3 separate regions of the Homo sapiens genome follow, and all the other regions are linked to region 1. Evidence: fine-mapped expression QTL. A gene starts in region 1. Each other region holds a variant in brackets. All regions are shown on one strand. Distances are between the middles of the regions.

Region 1 (8,177 bases):
GCATGCCACCACACAGGGTTAATTTTTATATTTTTAGTAGAGACGGGGTTTCACTATATTGGCCAGGCTGGTCTCGAACTCCTGACCTCAGGTGATCTGCCCGCCTCGGCCTCTCAAAGTGCTGGGATTACAGGCGTGAGCCACCGCGCCGGGCCTCTCTATGCTACTCTGGTCAGAGCCATGATGGGTCTGAGGGGCCTATTCAAGGATGGCAAAGAAAAGCCTGCGCTTGGCCAGGCACAGTGGCTCATGCCTATAATCCTAGTGCTTTGGGAGGTTGAGGCTGGAGGCTCGCTTGAGGCCAGGAGTTCAAGACCAGCCCGGGCAACATAGTAAGACCCCTGTCCATGTGTATAAAATTTTTTTTTAAGGATTAGCTAGGCCTGGTGGTGCATGCCTGTGGTCCCAGCTCTCAGGAGGCTGAGGTTGAGCTCAGGAGGTCGAGGCTGCAGTGAGTTATGATCATGCCACTGCACTCCAACCTGAGCGACAGAGCAAGATTCTGCCTTTGAAAGAAAGAAAGAGGCCGAGTGCAGTGGCTCATGCCTGTAATCCCAGTACTTTAGGAGGCTGAGGCGTTTGAGCTCAATAGTTTCAGACCAGCCTGGGCAACTGGCAAAACTCTACAAAATCACTACAAAAAAATGCAAAAATTAGCCAGGTGTGGTGGCTTATGCCTGTAGTCCCAGGCTGATTGCTTAAACTTGGGAGGTGGAGGTTGCAGTGGGCGAAGATCGCACCACTGCACCCCAGCCTGGGCAACAGAGCCAGAACTTGTCTTGAAAAAACAAAACAAAAACAAGAAAGAAAAGCAAAGAAAAGAGCTTGTACTGAAAGGCATGGGGAACAGAACAGGGTTGGTAAAGAGCAGCCACAAAAGAAAGTGAGACGGGCTGGGCGCAGTGGCTCACACCTGTAATCCCAGCACTTTGGGAGGCCGAGGCAGGTGCATCACCTGAGGTCAGGAGTTCGAGACCAGCCTGGCCAACATGGTGAAACCCACCCCCCTTCATCTCTACTAATAATATAAAAATTAGCCAGGTGTGGTGGTTCGCACCTGTAATCCCAGCTACTCAGGAGGCTGAGGCAGGAGAATTGCTTGAACCCGGGAGGTGGAGGTTGCAGTGGGCCGAGATCGCACCATTGCACTCCAGCCTGGGCGACAAGAACGAAACTCCATTCCAAAAAATAAAAAAAATAATAATTAAAAAAACAGTAAGATGCCTGCTACTGAATTATCAAACAGGGGTTTCAAGACCCTTTCCTCCTATGACAGCCCCAGCTCCCTTGGCTCCCAGCTTGCCACCCACTCCTGGTTTTCCTTCTGCCCTCTTTCTGCTGTCTCCCAAGCTCCCAGCTTGCTTTAAAGCCCATCCTACGCCGTACCACCTGGGTGTCTAGCAGCATGGCAATTTCCAGATGCTGAGAACAGATTGCTGACTTACACCTAAAGCTTCTCCCCCATGAGCAGCTGCTCCCTCCCCCGGCCTCTCCATATCTCTCCAAGATCCACCCAAGTCTCACCCGTCCACGCCTTCACCTGGTCCAGCCCCACCATTACTCCCCTGGCCTGGTGCAGTCCCTTCCATCCTGGTCTCCAGGCTCCTGCCTTCGACCCCTGCAGTCTGTTCCCTGAGCTCTAAATAATGCCAAATGCTTGTTCAAGGCTGGCAGGCTGGCTCTGCCCTTCTTCCTCTCCCCTCTTCTGGATCTTACAACCCTGGCTTTGTGGTTGTTTCATCCAAGCACCCTGGCAGTTTCTCTCCTCTGCAATTTGCCCACTGGTCTCTTGGCCTGGTTAACTCCTCCTTACCCTTAGCGACCCAGCCAACTGTCACCTCCTCCAGGAGGCCTTCCCTGACTCCTCCTTAGGCTGAGTCAGGTGACTCCTCTGGACTCCCCCTGACCCCAGGCATGACTCTGAATTTTTTTTTTTTTTTTTTTTTTTGGAGATAGTCTCACTTTGTTGCCCAGGCTGGAGTGCAGTGGCGCGATCTCGGCTCACTGCAAATTCTGCCTCCCAGGTTCAAGAGATTCTCCTGCCTCAGTCTCCCATGCAGCTGAGATTACAGGTACATGCCACCACGCCCGGCTAATTTTTGTATTTCTAGTAGAGATGGGGTTTCACCATGTTGGCCAGGCTGCTCTCGAACTCCTGACCTTAGGTGATCTGCCTGCCTCAGCTTCCCAAAGTGCTGGGATTACAGGCGTGAGCCACCACGCCCAGCCCCTCCGTGATATTTTAATAGCCTCCAGCTCTGTGATATTCTCGTGATATTTTAATAGCCTGTTTAGCACGTATTCACAACCAGCCAGGCACTGTGTTCAGCTCTTTACCTATAGGTCATGACTGCTATTATCCCATTTTACAGGTGGAGAAACTGAAGCAGGAAGTGGTGAAGTCAGTAGCCCGGAGGCCCTCAACTCAAAGTGGCAGGACAGGGCTGGGGGGTGGTCAGGCTCAAGCCCAGCCAGTCGGAAAGGGAGAAGCTTGTGGTGCTCAGAGAAGGGGACAGGGCAGCGAGCTCCCAAGGCACCTGCCTTTCTGTGCCATCCCACGGGTGGGAGGAGGGAACCTGGGCCCACTTCTGCTGCCAACTACAGGCATCCCAGTGGCTCCTGAGCCAAGACATTCTGTGCCACGCACTGGGTCAACCGCTTTATTCAACCTGCAGACAGCCCTGGGTCAGGAGGTGGACACTGTTGTGAATTTCTCAGAGGAGAAATGGAAGCCCATACATCCCCCTGAACTCCCACCGGGCGTTAGAACCCTCTCCGGTTCCTTAGGGGTGTGGCTGCCACCGAGATCTGCCTAGCCTCGGCTTTCATCGATCCATGAACACTCCCAGGCTCAGATACTACTGACCCATTTTACAGATGGGTAAACTGAAGCTCAGAAACCTTTCCCTGGGGGCCCTACAGCCAGTTCAACGACCAAGGCCGCCCCCCACCCCCCACACCCCAGGCTCAAAGTACCTCTGCTGGCAGTGGGTGAGCTGGAAAAACAGGTAAGGAAAGTCCTCAATGCCTCTTCCTCCACGCCTGGCTGGGCCTGCTGGGGCCCAGGTGCACTGAATGAGGCTTCTAATCAGTCCCCCAGCTCCACTTCTGTGTTTATTCACAGCAGCTGCTCCTGGAAGGCAGACCCATTTGAGGCTGGGGGAGGCCGAGGGCTTCAAAGACAATTCCACAGTCCAGGAACCCTATCCCCATATAACAGACCCAGGTCGCCCCAGTGGGGTCACCCTGGCCTCTGCGCTCAGATGCCTGAGACCTTGCCTGAGCTCAGACTGGAGTCGATGGGAGCATTCCCCCATCTGGTAGGTTTTGCAAACCACAACAGCCTCTCCCCCTGCCCACCTTCCTGTGTCCCCCAGAGCAGCTTCTCCTCAAGTCTCCCAACCCAGCAATGAAAGCCTCTTCTATATACTCCTAACTACCCAGGAGAAACATCGGTCCCCCACGCTCCACTTGCAAACAGACAGAATTAGACGATGTTACTCTGCCAAAGCGAATTTTCAGTTCACCCACTTCCTATCACACCTTCCAGCCAGGTCAAGCCAGAAGCCCCCTTCCAAGTATCCCCATCTCTCCTACCCACAGCGGCTACGGGATGTTCTTAAGACACAATCCGATCACGCCATGCACCTGCTGTTCCAAGCCTCCCTGGTCCCCACCGCCCCGAGAACGGGTTCCACACTCTCCTCGCCGCTTCCCAGGCCCCGGCCAACCTCTCTCCACCTCAGACCCTCCCTCTCCGCGTTTCAGCCAGGCTGGCCTCTTTTCTGCTCCGCACACACTCCCGGCTAGGCCCTGGGCCTAAAAAGCCCTCGCTGGCTGGTCCAACCAGGCCAAATGACATTATCCCCGCCTGGGCACCTCCACCTCACCCCGGCCGCCTGATGGGTTAGCTCGGGCTTGGAATGACGTGTTTAAGCGGTTCTCAGAAGCCGTCTACGCGGCCGGGCTGCGGACTCCGAGGCCAGGGCCCCAGCTGCGTCCCCAGCCCTGGCACGTCGGGGAAACGGGGCGCTCCCCCGGCTCACACATCCGGATTCCCCCGCGTCACGAGGCCAGGATCGCCCCTACTCGCTCCAGCCCGTTTCACAGCCGCGTCCTCGGGCACCCGTTGCGCCCCGGCCCTCGTGGGGGAGCGCGGATAGCTCGGGGAGACGGCCATGATGGGAAGCCCCGAGGGGGACAGTCCCCGGCGGGGTGATGGGGGCTGGAGCCCAGCTGCGAGTGGGGGCCGGGCTGGGGCCGCCATGGCCGCGGAGGCGGGGCCGGGGACCGCCGTGAGGGTGGCGTTCGGGGCGGTGTTCGCGGCGCGGGGTGCTCGCTTACCTGGGGGTGCAGGCGGCCGGGCGCACCGAGGGCCGGCGGCGGGGCTGGGGACGGCGCGCCTAGCGGGCTACCCGGAGCAGCTGCAGACACGCGCCGCCCGCCCCAGGCAGCCGGACTCTGCTCCTGGCCGGGCCTCGGCCCCCAGCAGGGGAAAAAAGGCTTGAGTGGGGGGAGCCCGGGGCGGGGCCGTGGGGGCGGGGCCTGGGCGGGGCACGCGCCCCGGAACGGTGGGGCCTGGCGCGGGGCTGGGGCCCTGGAGAGGCGGGGCCTGGCGCGGGGCGGGGGACTTGGAGGGGCAGGGCCTGGAGCGGGCGCCGGGTCCTCCAGGCGCTTGCCCCCCTCGACGCAACTAGGCCTCTCCCTGGCCCCCGACCCCGCACCCGCACCCCATCCCCGCCCCCGTCCCCGCCCCCCCATTCTCGCCCCCGCCCCCGTTCCCGCTCCGCCCATCTCTGCCCCGCGGCGCGCCTGGCCCGGGTCCAGCCTAGCGTTTCTAGTCTGCGCCTTATCTCTCCCCTTTGAACCCAGTATTGTCCGCTGCGCGCTCCGTCCGGCCCCGGCTTCACCCCTGTTCGCTGTCTGTCTCCCCGGCCCCCTCCCAGGTCCCCTCTTCTGCCCGAGATGCTCTGGCTCTGCTCATCTGTCCACACCCCCACACTCCCGGGGCGCCCTGAGCCTCTGGGGCGCGCAGTTGGATGGTGCACAGGGGAGGCCCAGATTTCTCCAGGCCTCAGCGGCCACCCTGGGTACCCCGAGTCTGGGGCCCTGTTGGAGGGCCAGTCCAGGGGTTCGCCCGAGGCGCGCGCGGGGGCCAACCGAGGCGGTGAGGGCACCGGGCAAAGGCTGCGATTTGGTGGGGTGCAGGGGTCAGGCGACAGAGCTGGGGAGATAAGATGGGAGATAGGCCGGGTGGGTGGTGGCGCAGCCCTGGTTTTGGCTGAGGGCAGCAGCAGTGGGGGCTGGGTCCCCCGCTTGCCTGGTAGAACCGAAAATGACCCAGTCTCAGCAGCGCGCAGGGGCAGGGAGCCTGGGCGATCCCTGAACAGAGGACAGCCCCAGGGGTTTTCATAGTCGCTGGCCCACCGCATGTACTCTGGGCAAGTGGCTTCGCCTTTGGACAATAAGCCTCTGTAAAATGGGGATAATAAACCTTTCTCTGACTCAGCTCAGCAGACCCAAGACCCATGGGGTGAAGTTGGGGCCTCCCTGCCACAGGGCCCTAGGCAAGCTGAGATTTGATTTCCTCACACAGACAGGGGCGCGGGGGGCGGGGCGGTCAGGGAGGCAGGAGACCTCTGTTGCAAGTGTGGAAGAACCTGTCCCTCCAAGTTCAGACTCCTGGCGTTTGCACTTGGCCTTCCCTCTGCTACACTGTTTCTCTTTTCTTTTTTCTTTTTCTTTTTTTTTTTTTGAGACGGAGTCTTGCATTGTGGCCCGGGCTGGACTGCAATGGCATGATCTCGGCTCACTGCAACTTCTGCATCCTGGTTTCATTCGATTCTCCTGCCTCAGCCTCCCGAGTAGCTAGGATTACAGGCGCCCACAACACCCGGCTAATTTATATATATATATATTTTTTTTTTTGGAGAGACGGGGGTTTCACAATGTTGGCCAGACTGATCTCAAACTCCTGACCTCGTGATCCACCAGCCTTGGCTTCCCAAAGTGCTGGGATTACAGGCGTGAGCCAGCATGCCCGACCTTCTCTTTTCTTTTTTTAAAAAAATCTGTTAGAGGCTGGGTGCGGTGGCTCACACCTGTAATCCCAGCACTTTGGGAGGCTGAGGCGGGTGGATCACCTGAGGTCAGGAGTTTGAGACCAGCCTGGCCAACGTGGCAAAATCCCATCTCTACTAAAAACACAAAAATTAGCCTGGAGTAGAATTACGTGAACCCAGGAGGCAGAGGTTGCAGTGCGTGGAGATCGTGCCACTGCACTCCAGCCTGGACAACAGAGTGAGACTCTATCAAAAAAAATTTCGTTAAAGATGGGAGTCTCACTCTGTTGCCCAGGCTAGAATGGAATGTCATGATCCCAGCTCATTGCAGCCTGGGACTCCAGGGCTCAAGCAGTCCTCTCACCTCAGCCTCCAGAGGAGCTAGGACTATAGATGCCTGCCACCATGCCCGGCTAATTTTTTTTTGTTTTAAATAAAAAAACTTTGGTAGGCAGGGTGTGGTGGCTCATGCCTGTAATCCCAGCACTTTGGGAGGCCGAGGCAGGTGGATCACGTGAGGTCAGGAGTTCGAGACCAGCCTGGCCAATATGGCGAAACCCCTTCTCTACTAAAAATACCAAAGTTAGCTGGGCATGGTGTTGCGCACCTGTAATCCCAGCTACTCGAGAGTCTGAGGCAGGAGAATCACTTGAACCCAGGAGGCGGAGGTTGCAGTGAGTCAAAATCGTGCCGCTGCACTCCAGCCTGGGTGACAGAGCAAGACTCTGTCTCAATTAAAAAAAACAAAAAAAAAAACTTTGGTAGAGGTGGGGTCTTGCTATGTTGCCCAGGCTGGTCTGGAACGCTTAGGCTCAAGTGATCCTTCCGCCTCCGCTTTCCAAGGTGCTGGGATTACAGGCAAGAGCCACTGTGCCCCAGCCTCTTTCCCTTTTCAAATGCATACATACTTCTCCCTGAGCCTCAGTCCCCTCCTCCTTCCTCCATTGCCTGCTTTACCCCACCCCCACCATATTCACCTGTTTATTTTCTCCTCTCCTTCCCTCCAAGAGCTTGTTTGCACACCTGGAAAAGAAAGATAATAAAGCAACTCTTCTCAGTTGTTGTGACTAGGGAGTTATTGAATATCACATGTCGCATACTCCAGGGTGCTCAGAGCATGGCATTTGTTTGTATTAATAATAATATATGACCGGGCTTGGTCGCTCACACCTGTAATCCTAGCACTTTGGAAGGCTGAGGTGAGTGGATTGCTGGAGCTCAGGAGTTTGAGACAAGCCTCGGTAACATGGCAAGAGCCCCATCTCTACCAAAAATACAAAAATTAGCCAAGCGTGGTGGTGTGCTCCTATAGTCCCAGCTACTCAGAAGGCTGAAGTGGGAGGATCACTTGAGCCCAGAAGTCAAGGCTGAGGTGAACTATGATCATGCCACTGAACTCCAGCCTGGGCAACAGAGTGAGATCCTGTCTCAATTAAAAAAAAAAAAAAGAGACACCAGCCTGGGCAACATAGTGAGACCCCGGTATCTACAAACAATAACGATAATATAATACAGGATACATGGTGGAATGGTGGAGTCCACGCCCCAGTGGAGAAGCCCCAGGACTCCGGAGAAGTGGAGTAGGGGAGCTCAAAAGAGGACCTGGGCAGGCCAGGGCTGGAGAGAGATTTCAGGTGGAAGGTACCACATGGGGCAAAGGTTGGGAAGCTGGAGGAAGACACCTGGGGTCAGCCAGGCAGGAAGGGACCCAGGCTGCACCTTCTGCAGTTGGGCAGCTTCTCGCCTGTCCTCACCTTCCACCCCGATCCCTGACCATGGAGCTCAGGCCGGACCCCAAGCTTGAGAGTGAGTGGGTGTTCAAGGCAGGCTTCCTGGAAGAGGTGACATCTGAGCCCTGAGAAATGAGCGGGTGGGGGAACTATACTGAGAGGAAGTTTCCTGGGAGGACAGCAGGGCTGGCCCAGCCACAATAAGCCCTCCTGGGTTCTCTCCAGGGAGAGGCACCAATGGACTTACTGATTTATTTTGAGATGGAGTCTCACTCTGTCATCCAGGCTGGAGTGCAGTGGCACGATCTCAGCTCACTGCAACCTCTGCCTCCTAGGTTCAAGTGATTCTCCTGCCTTGGCCTCCCGAGTAGCTGGGATTACAGGC
Region 2 (8,177 bases), 61 kb before region 1:
CAGAAAACAAAACAAACAAAAACAGGTTAACAGGAGAGGATACAGATTTACTTAATAGAAGTTTTGCATGGAATAGAAGCCCTCAGAAGAAAATGAATTTGAGAGGTCAAGGCAGGAGGATCCCTTGAGGCCAGGAGTTCAAGACCAGCCTAGGCAACATAGCAAGACCCTTTCTGTACAAAAAATACAAAAATTAGCAGGGTATGGTGGCGTGTGCCTGTAGTCCCAGCTACTCAGGAGGCTGAGGCGGGCGGTGGAGGTTGTGGTGAGCTGAGATCGAGTCACTACACTCCAGCCTGGGTGACAAAGACTCTGTCTGTCTGTGTCTCTCTCTCTCTCTCTCAAAAAAAGAAGGGGCTGGGCATGGTGGCTCATACCTGTAATCCCAGCACTTTGGGAAGCTGAAGCAGGTGGATCACTTGAGGTCAGGAGTTTGAGACCAGCCTGGCCAACATAGCAAAACCCTGTCTCTACTAAAAATACAATAATTGGCCAGGTGTCGTGGCACGAGCCTGTGGTCCCAGCTACTTGAGAGGCTGAGGCAGGAGAATCGCTTGAACCTGGGAGGCAGAGGTTGCAGTGAGCCGAGATCGCGCCACTGCACTCCAGCCTGGGCAATACAGCGAGACTCAGTCTCAAAAAAAAAAAAAGGAAAAAAAACAAAGGTTAATTTTATGCCGTGTGAGTTTCACCTTAATAATAAAAACAAAGGAGGGAAAAATGCATCAACCTATTTGTGTGCTGATAGGAATGCTCCAGGGGTGCGGGGAGGTTGTTGAGGTAGGTGCTTGTCTAGGCCCATGAAGGGGTGGAGGAGTTGGTGGAGAAGGGGGCGTGGTTTTGCTGCATCCAGGGCAAATTGATTCTCACAGGGCAAGAGGAAGAGCCACTGCGTCTGGGTCCTGATGCAGGTCTGCAGGTTGATGGAGGGCAGTGGCTCTGGAAGGTCTCTCCTGCTGATTTCTGTTTTCTCAGAGATGCCACCTGGTCTGTGACAAAGATTGGTAAACAGGAGGATGATGTCAGTATTAAGAGGAAATAACAGGCCGGGTGCGGTGGCTGACGTCTGTAATCCCAGCACTTTGGGAGGCCAAGGCTGTCGGATCACTTGAGGTCAGGAGCTCGAGACCAGCCTGACCAACGTGGCGAAATCCCGTCTTTACTAAAAATACAAACATTAGCCAGGCATGGTGGCCTGTGCCTATAATCCCAGCTTCTCAGGAGGCTGAGACAGGAGGATCGCTTGGACCCGGGAAGCGGGTGTTGCAGTGAGCCGAGATCGGCCATTGCACTCCGGCTTAGGAGACAGAGTAAGACTCTGTCTCGGGCGGGGTGGCGGGGGAAACAGGGAATAACAGTAGGGGAAGTTCCTAGTAATGCATGTTTTTCCAAGTCCCAGAAAGAACATAGCGGCAGATGGCAAGTTGCCCCTAGGTGGTGGTCGTTCCCCATGTCCAACACCCAGTCAGCCTCGGGCTAATCCAGGGTCACTGACCATGTGCTTATCTGGCAGTTCTCCCTGGTTTTCATGCATTTTACTTTTGCTTTAACCTTTTCTGTTTCCGATCGAGTGACCATCATTTTTTTTCTACTGTTAAATATACATATCAATACATAATAGAAAAAAATACAAAAAGTACGTAAGTATTATACCTAAAAATAACATAAAATTGACCACTTTAACAATTTTAAAGTGGGCTTCAAAGGTATTCAGTATTTTTACAATGTTGTGCACTCATCACCACCACCCATCTCTAGAACTGTTGTTTGTTTTTGTTCTTGTTTTTTGTTTTTGAGACAGAGTCTCGCTCTGTTGCCTAGGCTGGAGTGCAGTGGTGCTGTGATCTCAGCTCACTGCAACTTCTGCCTCCTGAGTTAGAGTGATTCTCCTGCCTTAGCCTCCCGAGTAGCTGGCATTACAGGCACGTGCCACCACGCCCAGCTAATTTTTTGTATCTTTAGTAGAGATGGGGTTTTCACTATGTTTGCTAGGCTGGTCTTGAACTCCTGACCTTGTGATCCACCTGCCTCAGACTCTCAAAAGTGCTGGGGTTACAGGCGTCAGCCACCATTCCTGGCCAAGAAATCTTTTTTGTTTGTGAGATGGGGTCTCATTATGTTGCCCAGGCTGGTCTCAAGCTCCTAGCCTCAAGTCATCCACCTGCCTTGGCCTCCCAAAGGGCTGGGATGATAGAATTTAGCCACAGTGCCTGGCCTCCTCTTTTTTTTTTTTTTTTTTTTTTTTTTTTTTTGAGATGGAGTTGTGCTCGGTCATCCAACCTGGAGTGCTGGAGTGCAGTGGTGTGATCTTGGCTCACTGCAACCTCCACCTCCCAGGTTCAAGCAATTCTTCTGTCTCAGCCTCCTGTAGCTGGGACAACAGGTGCATGCTACCATGCCTGGCTAATTTTTGTATTTTTAGTAGAGATTCGAGATGGGGTTTCACCATATTGGTTAGGCTGGTCTCGAACTCCTGACCTCAGGTGATCGACTGGCCTTGGCCTCTCAAGTGCTGGGATTACAGGCATGAGCCATTGTGCCCGGCCACATCTGTTTTTATCAAAGTGAAATTCATATAACATAAAATTAACCATTGTGAAGTGAATGATTCAGTGGCATTTGGTACATTCACAGTGCAGTGCAACCATATCTATCTACTGCCAGAATATTTTCATGACCCCAAAAGGAAGCCCTGTACTCATTTTGGTGACTCACACATGTAATCCTAGTGCTTGGGAGGCCGAGGTGGGAGGATGGTTTGAGGCTAGGAGATTCAGATCATCCTGGACAACATAGCAAGGCCTAATCTCTACCAAAAATAAAAAAATTAGCTGGGTGTGGTTGTGTGCACCTGTCATCCTAGCTACTGGGAAGACTGAGGCAGGAGGATTGCTTGAGCCCAAGTGTTGGAAGCTGCAGTGATCTGTGATCACACCACTGCATTCCAGCCTGGGCAACAGAGCAAAACCCTGTCTCCAAAATAAAAAATTTAAAAATAAAAGAAATTGGATATTCTCCCCCTTTCCCTCTTTTTTTTCCCTCCCCCTCTTCTTGGTATCAGCCTGAATTAGATGAGAAATAACTGTTACTTGAAATGTTGATAAAACTTGATTGGGGCCGGGCACGGTGGCTCACGCCTGTAATCCCAGCACTTTGGGAGGCCGAGGCGGGCAGATCACGAGGTCAGGAGATCGAGACCATCCTGGCTAACATGGTGAAACCCCATTTCTACTAAAAATAGAAAAAAATTAGCCAGGCGTGGTGGCGGACGCCTGTAGTCGCAGCTTCTCGGGAGGCTGAGGCAGGAGAATGGCGTGAACCTGGGAGGCGGAGCTTGCAGTGAGCAGAGATCGCGCCGCTGCACTCCAGCCTGGGCGACGGAGCGAGACGCTGTCTCAAAAAAAAAAAA[AG/G]CAAGACTCCGTCTAAAAAAAAAAAAAAAAAAAAAAACCCCAAAAACTTTGGTTGAAAAATCCTCTGGGTTTTGTCCTTTAGCGGAAGGTAGTTTGTTTCTTCCCTTCCCCTTCCCTTCCTCTCTTTCTCTCATTTTTTTCTTTCAACAGGGTCTCCCTCTGTCAACCAGGCTGGAGTGCAGTGGCACCATCATGACTCACTATAGCCTTGACCTCCTGGGTTCAAGCGATCCTTCAGCCTCAGCCTCTCGAGTAGTGGGGACTACAGGCACACACCACCATATCCAGCTAATTTTTATTTATTTTTATTTTTTAAATTTTAGATGGAGTCTTCCTCTGTCGCCAAGGCTGGAGTGCAGTAGCGCAATCTCGGCTCACTGCAAGCTCCGCCTCCCGGGTTCAGGCCATTCTCCTGCCTCAGCCTCCCGAGTAGCTGGGACTACAGGTGCCCGCCACCACGCCCAACTAATTTTTTGTATTTTTAGTAGAGACAGGGTTTCACCATGTTAGCCAGGATGGTCTCGATCTCTTGACCTTGTGATCCACCCACCTCGGCCTCCCAAAGTGGTGGGATTACAGGTGTGAGCCACCGCGCCCGGCCTAATTTTTAAATTGTTTTGTAGAGACCAGGTTTCGCTATGTTGACCAGATGGGTCTTAAACACCTGGGTTCAAGTGATCTGTCTACCTTAGCCTCCCAAAATGTTGGGATCACAGGCATGAACCATATTGTCTGCCCCCTCCCCCAAGTTATTTCCATTTCATTAATATTTATGGATTTAGTAAAGTTTTTTGGTACCTCTTGGTGCAAGTTTTGCATTTTATATTTTTCCATAAAGGTATTCTTTTCATCTTCATCTTTTCTTTTAGTTTTGAGACGGAGTTTCGCTCATGTTGCCCAGACTGGAGTGCAATGGCGTGATCACAGCTTACTGCAACCTCCGCCTCCTGGGTTCCAGTGATTTTTCTGCCTCAGCCTCCCAAGTAGGTGGGACTACAGGCGGGCACCAGCAGGCCTGGCTAATTTTTTCAGATGGAGTCTCACTCTGTCGCTCAGGCTGGAGTGCAGTGGCACGATCTTGGCTCACTGCAAGCTCCACCTCCTGGGTTCACACCATTCTCCTGCCTCAGCGTCCTGAGTAGCTGGGACTACAGGTGCCCACCATCAGGCCTGGCTAATTTTTTGTATTTTTTAGTATACACGGGGTTTCACTGCATTAGCCAGGGTGGTCTCGATCTCTTGAGCTTGTGATCTGTCCTCCTCAACCTCCCAAAGTGCTGGAATTACAGGCATGAGCCACCCTGCCCCGCCAGTTTTTGTATTTTTAGCAGAGATGGGGTCTTGACATGTTGGCCAGGCTGGTCTTGAACTCCTGGGCTGAAGCGATCCACCTGCCTTAGCCTCCCAAAGTGCTGAGATTACTGGCGTGAGCCACTGTGCCTGGCATATACCCACTTTTAATCGCATGCAGATTAAGGGGCAGTTTATGTAGAAACTTTTAGGGAAGGGGGTACTAATCATTGGGGCATTGCCTGGAAAGGGGCAGTAATTCCTTGATGTTAGCATGGTAATGTGAAATTGACACGGCACACTGGCAGGCATGTCTCATCGAAAGCTGCTTCCCCCTCCCTTTTCCTTCACCTGTTTTAGCTAGTCCTCAATATGGTCTGGTGTCTGAGCCCCACCTCTGAAGTCAAATCTTATCTTCTACCTCACTAGGACTTGCCTAGGAGTTGCACTGATAGCCTAGACTGACTTTCAAATTTACTTAGAGACCCAGAGCACTTTAGCCCATGGTGGGTCGCAAAGTTTGCAGGAACTCAAATTCCACTGGGATCCATAATTTCCCTCTTGTTAGGGCTGGTTTAAATGCCCCCTCTATAGGGACCAGCCCTACAGGGCCTGTGGGTTTTTCTCCTCGTGTGTGGAGATGAGAGATCGTAGAAATAAAGACACAAGGCAAAGAGAAGGAAAGACAGCTGGGGCCTGGAGGACCACTACCACCAAGACGCAGAGACCGGTAGTGGCCCTGAATGCCTGGCTGCACTGTTATTTTTTGGATATAAGGCAAGGGGGCAGGGTAAGGAGTGTTGAGCCATCTCCAGTGATAGGTAAGGTCACGTGAGTCATGTGTCTACTGGACAGGGGGCCCTTCCCTGTTTGGTAGCCGAGGCAGAGAGAGGGGACAGCTTATGTCATTATTTCTTGGAGAGGTCAACGGCTTAATACTTTCACTTAATTCTGCTACTGTTTTCTAGAAGGCAGAGCCAGGTGTACAGGGTGGAACATGAAAGTGAAACAGGAGCGTGACCGCTGAAGCACAGCATGACAGAGGCTAGACTGTTAGGCCTCTGGATGGCTGTTGGCAGGTGGGGATGGTGGGGGCTTGACTGATGTCAGGCCTTCCACAAGAGGTGGTGGAGCAGAGTCTTCTCTAACTCCCCCAAGGAAAGGGAGACTCCCTTTCCCGGTCTGCTAAGTAACGGGTGCCTTCCCAGGCGCCGGCATTACCGCTAGACCATGGAGCCCTCTAGTGGCCCTGTCCGGGCATAACAGAGGGCTCGCACTCTTGTCTTCTGGTGTAACTATTTTTATTTTATATATATTTTTTATTTTACTGGAACAACTTGTGCCCTCAGTCTCTTGCCTCGGCACCTGGGTGGCTTGCCGCCCACACCCTCTATGGGTGGGCATCAGCTGAGTGTGGTCGGGTTTTTCTTTCTGCTCTAAAAGGACAGCGCTGGGTTCCATGCCTCACAATTGCTGCCCCCTCCCTCTCCCCAACACACAAAGGCACTCTCCACACCATGCTGCCAGGGGTGGCGGAGAGGTGGTGTCAGAGATTCAGGACTTTCAGTGTGTTTCTTCAGTGTGTCTTTCAGTGATATAAAGTTAAAACCGGGTACTGTGAGTGCTCACCTGATTTTTGGTTCTTCTTTTTTTTTTTTTTTTTTTTTTTTTTTTTTTTTTTTTTTTTTTTTTTTTTTTTCGGAGACAGAGTCTTGCTCTGTCGCCCAGGCTGGAGTGCAGTGGCGCGATCTCGGCTCACTGCAACCTCTGCCTCCCGGGTTCAAGTGATTCTCCTGCCTCAGCCTCCTGAGTAGCTGGAACTACAGGCATGAGCCACTGCTCCCGGCTGGGATTTTTGGTTCTTGGGAAAGTGCTTTTTTGTGTGTAGCTGTTAAATTGGTGTCCTTGTTGGAGGGATGGTTGGTGGAGCCTTCTATTCTGTTATCTTGTGCTGCCTTCTACATCCTGGGTTTTTGATATAGATATGTCATAGACTAATAATGGGCAGTTTTATTCTCTTTATTTCTCCTACTGATATCTTTTTTTGTTTTACGGTTTTTTTTTTTTTAATTGGCGGAATTTCACTCTTGTTGCCTGGGCTGGAATGCAATGGCGTGACCTCGCCTCACTGCAACCTCCGCCACCCAGGTTCAAGTGATTCTCCTGCCTCAGCCTCCCAAGTAGCTGGGATTACAGGCATGCGCCACCACACCCGGCTAATTTTTTTGTATTTTTAGTAGAGATGGGGTGTCTCCATGTTGGTCAGGCTGGTCTCGAACTCCCGACCTCAGGTGATCTGCCTGCCTCGGCCTCCCAAAGTGCTGGGATTAACAGGCGTGAGCCACCGCGCCCGGCCTTTTTTGATTTATTGTTAACTAGAACTCCCAGAATAATTTTGAATAAGGGTGGCGATAGCAGCTATTGTCTTATTTCTTACCTTAAGGGTTATGTACCCAACAATTAAATATGACATTAAATATAACATTTGACATGTATGATGCTTTATTTTTGTTTTTTAGTGTTGGGGCCTTCCACTATTCCTCAGGTTGGAGTGCAGTGGCAAGATCACGGCTCACTGCAGCCTTGAACTCCTGGTTCAAGTGGTCCTCCTGCCTTGAGCTCCTGAGTAGCTGGGACTACAGGCACATACCACCATGCCTGATTTTTAAATTTTGTGCAGAGATGGGGGTCTTGCCATGTTGCCAGGCTGATCTTGAACTCCTGGGCTCAAGTGATCCTCTCCCTTGGTCTCCAGAAGTGCTGGGATTACAGGTATGAGCCACCGCACCTGGCCTGTCTCTATATTTTTTTCTGTGACTTCTTTTATTTTTCTTTATTAATCTTGCCAGATGTTCGTCTGTTAGTCATTCAAATAACTAACTTTTAGGTTTGATGATCCTAATTTTAACACTTATCCTGTTTTTTCTTTTATTGAGCTTATTTTACTGTTCTTTAAAATCTTCTTAAATGCTTAGCTAATTATTTTTGAGCTTTTTCTTTTTTTTTTTTTTTTTTTTTTTTTTTTGAGTCTCACCCTGTTGCCCAGGCTGGAGTACAATGGCACAATCTTGGCTCATTGAAACTTCTGCCTCCTGGGTTCAAGCGATTCTCCTGCCTCAGCCTCCTGAGTAGCTGGGATTACAGGCACGTGCCACCACTGCTGGCTAATTTTTTTTTTTTTTTTTGTATCTTTAGTAGAGACGGGGTTTCACCATGTTGGTCAGACTGATCTCAAACTCCTGACCTCATGATCCACCCCCCTTGGCCTCCCAGAGTGCTGGGATTACAGGTGTGAGCCACCACGCCAGGCTGCTTTTTTTTTTTTTTCGTTTCTAATATAAGCCTGTTAGGCTGCAAACTTCCTCCAAAGGATTGCTTAAGCTACACTCCACAAACATTGACATGTAATATTTTTATATTTTTGCTATTCATCTTTTTTTTTTTTTTTTTTTTTTTGGAGACAAAATCTCACTCTGT
Region 3 (8,177 bases), 29 kb after region 1:
CATGCCTGGCGAATTTTTCTTTTCTTCCTTTTTAGAGAGAGTTTCCTGCTATGTTGCCCAGGCTGCAGGCTGGTCTCAAACTCCTGGGCTCCCAAAATGTTGGGATTACAGGCGTGAGCCATTGTGGCTGGTGGAAGGTAGCTTTTTTTCTTTTCTTTTCTTTTGCCAGAATCTCACTTTGTCTCCAAGGCTAGAGTGCAGTGGCATGAGCTCAGCTTACTGCAACCTCCGCCTCCCAGGTTCAAGCGATTCTTTTGCCTCAGCCTCCTGAGTAGCTGGAATTACAGGCATGGGCCACCGTATCCAGCTAATTTTTGTATTTTTAGTAGAGATGGGGTTTCACCTTGTTGGCCAGGCTGGTCTTGAACTCCTGACCTCAGGTGATCCTCTTGCCTCGTCCTCCCAAAGTGCTGGGATTACAGGCGTGAGCCACTGCCCAGGGCCGGAAGTTAGCTTTGATGCACCCATTTGTCCTGGAGCCCCAGGAACAAGGTGTGCTCTACCAGAAAGAGTGCAGATGGGATGTGGATTCTGGAAATCATATGTAGGATTTGCAACCTCGTGCATGGTTCTGAGTATCTGTAGCTTGCAGCAGGTCTAGATATGCCAACCCTTGATTCAGAGCTCAAAAGTCATCAGGGTCTTATGGGCCAGCTGAGGACAGCCAGGGGTCAGGCACCAGGATTTTCTTTTTTTTTTTTGCATTAAATCAATTTTTTAGGCTGGATGCAGCACCTCATACCTGTAATCCCAGCACTTTGGGAGGCCGAGGCGGCATTGCTTGAACCTAGGAGTTGGAGTCCAGCCTGGGCAATGTAGTGAGACCCTATCTATAAAAAAAAAAATTAAAATCTGGCTGGGCGCTGTGGCTCATGCCTGTAACGCCAGCACTTTGAGAGGCCGAGTCCAGCGGATCACATAAGGTCAGGATTTCAAGAGCAGCCCGGCCAACGTGGGGAAACCCCATCTCTATCAAAAATACAAAAATGACCTAGGTATGGTGGCGCATGCCTGTAATACCAGCTACTTGGGAGGCTGAGGCATAAGAATCACTTGAATCTGGGAGGCAGAGGTTGCAGTGAGCTGAGATCACACTACTGCACTCCAGCCTGGGCGACAGAGCAAGACTGTCTCAAAAAAAAAAAAAAAAAAAAAAAAAGAAAAAAAAAAAAAGAAAAGAAAAAGAAAAAGAAAAAGAAAAAAAAAAAGAAAAAAAAAATGCTGGATGGGGTGGCTCATGCCTGTAATCCCAGAACTTTGCGAGGCTGATGCAGGTGGATCACCTGAGGTCAGGAGTTTGAGACCAGCCTGGCCAATGTGGTGAAACCCCGTCTCTATTAAAAATACAAAAATTAGCCAGGCATGGTGGCGCACACCTGTGGTTCCAGGTCCTCGGGGGGCTGAGGCAGGAGAATTGCTTGAACCCAGGGGATGGAGGTTGCAGTGAGCCGAGATCCACTGCACTCCAGCCTGGGTGACAGAGCGAGACTCTGTCTCAAATAAAAAAAAAGAAAGAAAGAAAGAAAGAAAAAGAACAACTTCATCACCCCGTAAAATTCCCTTACACTGCCCGTTAGGAGTCACATCCTTCCTTCCTTCTCCTTGACAACCACTGATCGGCTCTCTGTCGCCATAATTTAGCCTTTCCGGGACTGTTGTATAAATGGAATCAGTCACACACTGGATAGCCTTGTGAGACTGGGTTCTTTCTTTCTTTTCTTTTTTTTTTTTGGATGGAGTTTCATTCTTGTTGCTCAGGCTGGAGTGCAATGGCACGATCTCGGCTCACTGCAACCTCCACCTCCTGGGTTCAAGCGATTCTCCTGCCTTAGCCTCCCGAGTAGCTGGGATTACAGGCATGCGCCACCATGCCCAGCTAACTTTGTATTTTTAGTAGAGACGGGGTTTCTCCATGTTGGCCAGGCTGGTCTCGAACTCCCGACCTCAGGTGATCTGCCCACCTCGGCCTCCCAAAGTGCTGGGACTTACAGGCGTGAGCCACCGCGCCCAGCGAGACTGGCTTCTTTCACTCAAGCAGAGGAAAACAGTATTTGTTTTCCCATGGGCTTTTTTTTTTTTAAGACAAGGTCTGGCTCTGTCACTGAGGCTGGAGTGCAGTGATGCAATCACAGCTCAGTGCCAACTCCACCTCCCAGGCTCAAGCCATCCTTCTGCCTCAGCCTCCCGAGTAGCTGGGACTACAGATGCACACCACCACACCTGGCTAATTTTTGTATTTTCTTTCTTTTTTTTTTTTTTGTAGAGATGGGGCCTTGCTATGTTGCTCAGGGTGGTCTCAAACTCCTGGGCTCAAGCGATCCTCCTGCCTTGGCCTCCCAAAGTGCTGGGATGACAGGCGTGAACCACTGCACCCAGCCCATAAACGTTCTGATTTATAGCAGTTCAGGTTTGCAGCAAAATTGAGTGGAAAGTACAGAGATTTCCCATATATCTACCCTGCTCCCCAAGCCCAGCCTCCTCCTTATCAATGTCCGCCACTAGAGTGGTGCATTGGTTATACTTGATGAATCTCCAGGGACCCGTCCTCATCACCCCGAGTCCACAGCCTACATTAGGGCTCACTTTTTTTTTTTTTTTTTTTTTGAGAAGGAGTTTTGCTCGGCTAGTTATATGTTTTTTTAGCCAGGCTCTTTCTCTGTCATCCAGGCTGGAGTGCAGTGGCACCATCACAGTTCACTGCAGTGTCGACCTCTCCAGCTCAAGCCATCCCCCTGCCTCAGCCTCCCTGAGTAGCTGGGATTACAGGTGCACCATCATGCCTGGATAATTAAAAAATTTTTTTAGGCTGGTCACAGTGGCTTACACCTGTAATTCCAGCACTTTGGGAGGCCAAGGTGGGCAGATCACTTGAGGTCAGGAGTTCGAGACCAGCCTGGCAAACTTGTTGGAACCCTGTTTCTACTAAAAATTCAAAAATTAGCCGGGCGTGGTGGCACGCACTTGTAGTCCCAGCTACTCAGGAGGCTGAGGCAGAATTGCTTGAACCTGGGAAGCGGAGGCTGCACTGAGCTAAGATAGCACTACTGCACTCCAGCCTGGGTGACAAGAGTGAGATTCTGTGTTAGAAGAAAAGAAAAGAAAAAATATATTGTAATTTAAATTAATTTATTTAGAGACATGGTCTTTCTCTGTCCCCCAGTCTGACCTGGAACTCCTAGGCTCAAGCAATCCTTCCACTTCAGCCTCCTGAGTATCTGGGACCACAGGCTTGTGCCACTGTGCCCAGCAAGAGCTCATTTATTTTAATTAATGAGTTCCCATTGTCTGAAAGTACCACTGTTTATTTATTCATTCAACTCCCGAAGGGCATCTTGGTTGCTTCCAAGTTTTATGCAATTATGAATAATACTGCTGTAAACATCCGTGTGCAGGTTTTGTTTTGTTTTGTTTTTTTGGTTTTGAGACAGAGTCTCACTCTCTCGCCCAGGCTGGAGTGCAGTGGCGCCATCTCGGCTCACTGCAAGCTCTGCCTCCTGGGTTCACGCCATTCTCCTGCCTCAGCCTCCCGAGTAGCTGGTACTACAGGCACCTGCCACCATGCCCGGCTAATTTTTTGTATATTTAGTAGAGACAGGGTTTCACCGTGTTAGCCAGGATGGTCTCGATCTCCTGACTTCGTGATCCTCCCGCCTCGGCCTCCCAAAGTGCTGGGATTACAGGCATGAGCCACCGCACCCGGCCAGTTTGTTTTTTTTTTTTTGAGTCGGAGTCTCCCTGTGTCGCCCAGGCTGGAGTGCAGTGGTGTGATCTCGGCTCACTGCAACCTCTGCCTCACGGGTTCAAGTGATTCTCCTGCCTCAGCCTCCTGAGTAGCTGGGACTACAGGCACATGCCACCACGCGCAGCTAATTTTTGTATTTTTAGTAGAGACAGGGTTTCACCATATTGGCCAGGCTGGTCTTGAACTCCTGACCTCGTGATCTGCCCGCCTCGGTCTCCCAAAGTGTTGGGATTACGGGTATGAGCCACTGCACCTGGCCCATGTGCGGGTTTTCTTGTAGACATGAGCTTTCAACTCGTTTGGGTAAATATCTAGGAGTGAAATTAATTGGTTATATGGTAAGAGTATGTTTAGTTTTGTAAGAAGCTGTCACACTGTCTTCTAGAGTGGCTGTACTGTTTGGCATTTCTCTCAGCAAAGAGTGAGAT[T/G]TCCTGTTGCTATATAGGAAACATCTTTTTTTTTTTTTTTTTTTTTTGAGTCAGTCTTGCTTTGTCACCCAGGGTGGAGCACAGCGGTGTAATCTCAGCTTATTGCAACCTCCACTTCCCGGACTCAAGCACTTCTCATGCCTCACCCTCCCGAGTAGCTGGCATTACAGGCATGCACCACCACGCCCGGCTAATTTTTGTATTTTTAGTAGAGATGGGGTTTCACCATGTTGCCCAGGCTGATCTCGAACTCCTGGCCTCAAGTGATCCACCCACCTCGGCTCGCAAAGTGCTGGGATTACAGGCGTGAGCCACCACTCCTGGCCATATAGGCAACAAAATTTTTAATTACGGCAACATCTAGAAAAAAATGTTTTATCCTATATCCTGCATTTTTCTTTTTCTTTCTTTTTTTTTTTTTTTTGAGATGGAGTCTCACTCTGTCACCCAGGCTGGAGTGCAATGGTGCCATCTCGGCTCACTGCAACCTCTGCCTCCCAGGTTCAAGCAATTCTCCTGCCTCAGCCTCCCAAATAGCTGGGATTACAGGCTTGTGCCACCACACTCTGCTAATTTTTTGTATTTTTAGTAGATATGGGGTTTCACCATGTTGGCCAGGCTGGCCTTGGACACCTTGCCTCAAGTGATCCGCCTGCTTTGGCCTCCCAATATCCTGCTTTTTTCTGTAAAAATAGTATGAAAATATTTTACATATTGTTAAAGAAAATCTACAAACATTTTTCATAACTGCATATTGGATCTTATCACGTGATTGTACACAGCGTACCGGATACCTCAGGCTTTGCACTAACTGAATATTAAAATAACAATAACAGAAGCATTGTTATATGTAAATATTTGCCTATTTCTCATATTTCTTTCTCATGGATTCCCAGCAGTGGAAATACTGGCTGGAAAAAGGCAAACACGTTATGATTCTTGGTACATGTTGCCAAGAGCTCACCAGAAGCCTGAAATTTATGCTAAAAGCAGCAAGCTGGCCGGGCACAGTCGCTCATGCCTGTAATCCCAGCACTTTGGGAGGCTGAGGAGGGTGGATCACCTGAGGCCAGGAGTTTGAGACCAGCCTGGCCAACATGGCAAAACCCCATCTCTACTAAAAATACAAAAATGAGCTGGGCATGGTGGTGTGTGTCTGTAATCCTGGCTACTAGGGAGGCTGAGACAGGAGAATCACTTGAACCTGGGAGGCAGAGGTTGCAGTGAGCCGAAATTACGCCACTGCACTCCAGCCTGGACGACAAAGCAAAACTCTGTCAAAAAAAAAAAAAAAAAAAAAAAAGCTGCAAGCTGGGGTAAGAGTCTTCAGGAAAAAAAAAAAAAGGTTAGATTAAAATAGACAAAAGATGTCTCATTCTCTTTTCTTTTTTAGAGATAGAGTCTTACTGTGTTGCCCAGGCTGGGGTGCAGTGGAACTATCATAGCTCACAGAAGCCTCAGCCTCCTGGGTTCAAGTGATCCTCCCACCTCAGCTTCCCAAGTAGGTGGGATTACAGGCATGTGCGACCATACCCAGCTAATTTTTATTTTTTGCAGAGATGTGGTCTCACTACATTGCCCAAGTTGGTCTCAAACTCCTGGGCTCAAGTGATTCTCTCACCTTGGCCTCCCAAAGTGCTGGGATTACAGGCATGAGCCACAGCACCTGGCTAAGAATTCCTCTTTAAGTTTTAAAGAGAGACAACTCAGTACATTGCTTGACCATTTTGCCCTCTGCTCTTAAGCTTAGAAAATGCTTTCACATCTCAGAGATTTAAAATCCATTTCCAGCTGGGCACAGTGGCTCACGTCTGTAATCTCAGTACTCTGAGAGGCCAAGGCAGGCAAATCACTAGAGACCAGGAGTTTGAGACCAGCCTGGCCAACATGGTGAAACCCCGTCTCTACTAAAAAGACAAAAATTAGCTGGGCAAGGTGGCACATGCCTGTAATCGCAGCTACTCGGGAGGCTGAGGCAGGAGAATCGCTTGAACCCAGGAGGCAGATGTTGCAGTGAGCCGAGATTGTGCCACTGCACTCCAGCCTGGGCAATAGAGTGACACTCCATCTAACATAATAATAAATAAATCCAAAGAACTTAGTAAACTCCTTTGGTGTCACAAAGCTGTTTGATGACAGAATCAGTATTATAACCTGGAAGTTCAAACTCTGGCTTGGCGCTTTTTCTTATTTTATAGCTAGTCTTTGAGGTAAGATTTGTACTGTTAATTCATTCTGCCTACCCATCCACACACAAAAAATTATGAGGTCAAAAATAAATAATTTGAAATAGAGCAAAAGTAGAGGAAGTAGTGAAGGAAGAAAGGATTCTGGAATTCCATAAAAGTTTTGTGTTTTCTTTGTTTGTTTGTTTTTTGAGATGGAGTCTCACTCTGTCACCTAGGCTGGAGTGCAATGGCGCAATCTCGGCTCACTGCAACCTCTGTCTGCCTCCTGGGTTCAAGCGATTCTCCTGCCTCAGCAACCTGTGTAGCTGGGATTACAGGCGCCTGCCACCATATCTGGCTAATTTTTGTATTTTTAGTACAGACAGGGTTTCACCATGTTGGCCAGGCTGGTCTCAAACTCCTGACCTCAAATGATCCACCCGCCTCGGCCTCCTAAAGTTCTGGGATTCCAGGCGTGAGACACCGCGCCTGGCCTGTTTCTTTTCTTTTCTTTTTTTAATTGAGACAGGGTCTCGCTCTGTCACCCAGGCTAGAGTATGGTAGTGCCATCTCAGCTCAATGTGGCCTCAATCTGGGCTCAAGCAATTCTCCCATCAGGCTCCTGAGTAGCTGAGACTATAGTTGTGCACTACTATGCCTGGCTTTGCTGCTTTTTGATCTGATAACAGAAAATGGCCTGTATCAGCGACATAATCAGAAGTAGATAACAAAACCAGCTGGTTAAAAGGAAATTGCAAAAGAATAATACACCTCTTTGGTCAGGTGTGGTGGCTCATGCCTGTAATCCCAGCACTTTGGGAGGCCGAGGTGGGTGGATCACTTGAGTTCAGGAGTTTGAGACCAGCCTGGCCAACATGGTGAAATCCCGTCTTCAATATAAATACAAAAATTAGCTGGGCGTGGTGGCAGGTGCCTGTATTTCCAGCTAATCGGGAGGCTGAGGCAGCAGAATTGCTTGCAGCCAGGAGGCGGAGGTTTCAGCGAGCCAAGATCACACCTTTGCACTCCAGCCTGGGTGACAGACAGAGACTCTGTCTCTAAATCAATCAATCAATCAATCAATCAACCAATCACCTCTTTCACATGCCCCTAACACTGATCATGAAGGGGGTCAACTCACTGAACTACAAGAAATTGATTATGGTTACAGAAAATGTCATAAGTTGTATGTTTGTAGAGCATTATCTGCACACACACATATTCACTTTTCCATGCTTGTTATTCAGATAGCAGCTGCATTACATTTATATCATCCCAGCTATTGGCTTAGTAGCCAAGAATCTATATAGAGTTATAGGGCAGTGATAAAGATACGGTTTTAGAAGGCATTTACTATAGATTTTTTTTTTTTTTTTTTTTTTTGAGACGGAGTCTTGTCCTGTCACCCAGGCTGGAGTGCAATGGCACGATCTCAGCTCACTGCAACCTCCACCTCCCGGGTTCCAGCAATTCTCCTGCCTCAGCCTCCTGAGTAGCTGGGATTACAGGCAGGTGCCACCACGCCCAGCTAATTTTTGTATTTTTAGTAGAGATGGGGTTTTGCCGTGTTGGCCAGGCTGGTCTTGATCTCCTGACCTCGTGATCTGCCTGCCTCAGCCTCCCAAAGTTCTGAAATTATAGGCATGAGCCACCGCACCCTGCCTAGGTTGTTACCTTTTTTTTTTTTTTTTTTTTTGAGATGGAGTCTCGCTCTGTTGCCCAGGCTGGAGTGCAGTGGCGTGATCTCGGGTCACTGCAAGCTCTGCCTCCCAGGTTCACGTCATTCTCCTGCCTCAGCCTCCCAAGTAGCTGGGACTAGAGGCGCCTGCCACCACGCCC

Evidence for each region.
Region 2: its variant is fine-mapped to the expression of CERS4 in whole blood (INTERVAL, PIP above 0.99).
Region 3: its variant is fine-mapped to the expression of CERS4 in whole blood (TOPMed, PIP 0.98).

Annotation. Positions count from the first base shown.
Region 1 is chr19:8,205,662-8,213,838 of GRCh38, reverse strand. CERS4 (ceramide synthase 4) reads right to left here and starts at 4,469. Exons shown (of 12, transcript NM_024552.3): 1 at 4,345-4,469; 2 at 2,977-3,133. RefSeq lists a silencer at 3,869-4,788.
Region 2 is chr19:8,266,843-8,275,019 of GRCh38, reverse strand. No RefSeq gene overlaps it. Among named protein-coding and RNA genes, the nearest start is that of CD320, 37 kb to the left of the region's middle. RefSeq lists an enhancer at 5,715-6,044. The variant AG/G (reference allele first, on the strand shown) is at 3,410.
Region 3 is chr19:8,177,113-8,185,289 of GRCh38, reverse strand. No RefSeq gene overlaps it. Among named protein-coding and RNA genes, the nearest start is that of CERS4, 28 kb to the left of the region's middle. The variant T/G (reference allele first, on the strand shown) is at 4,171.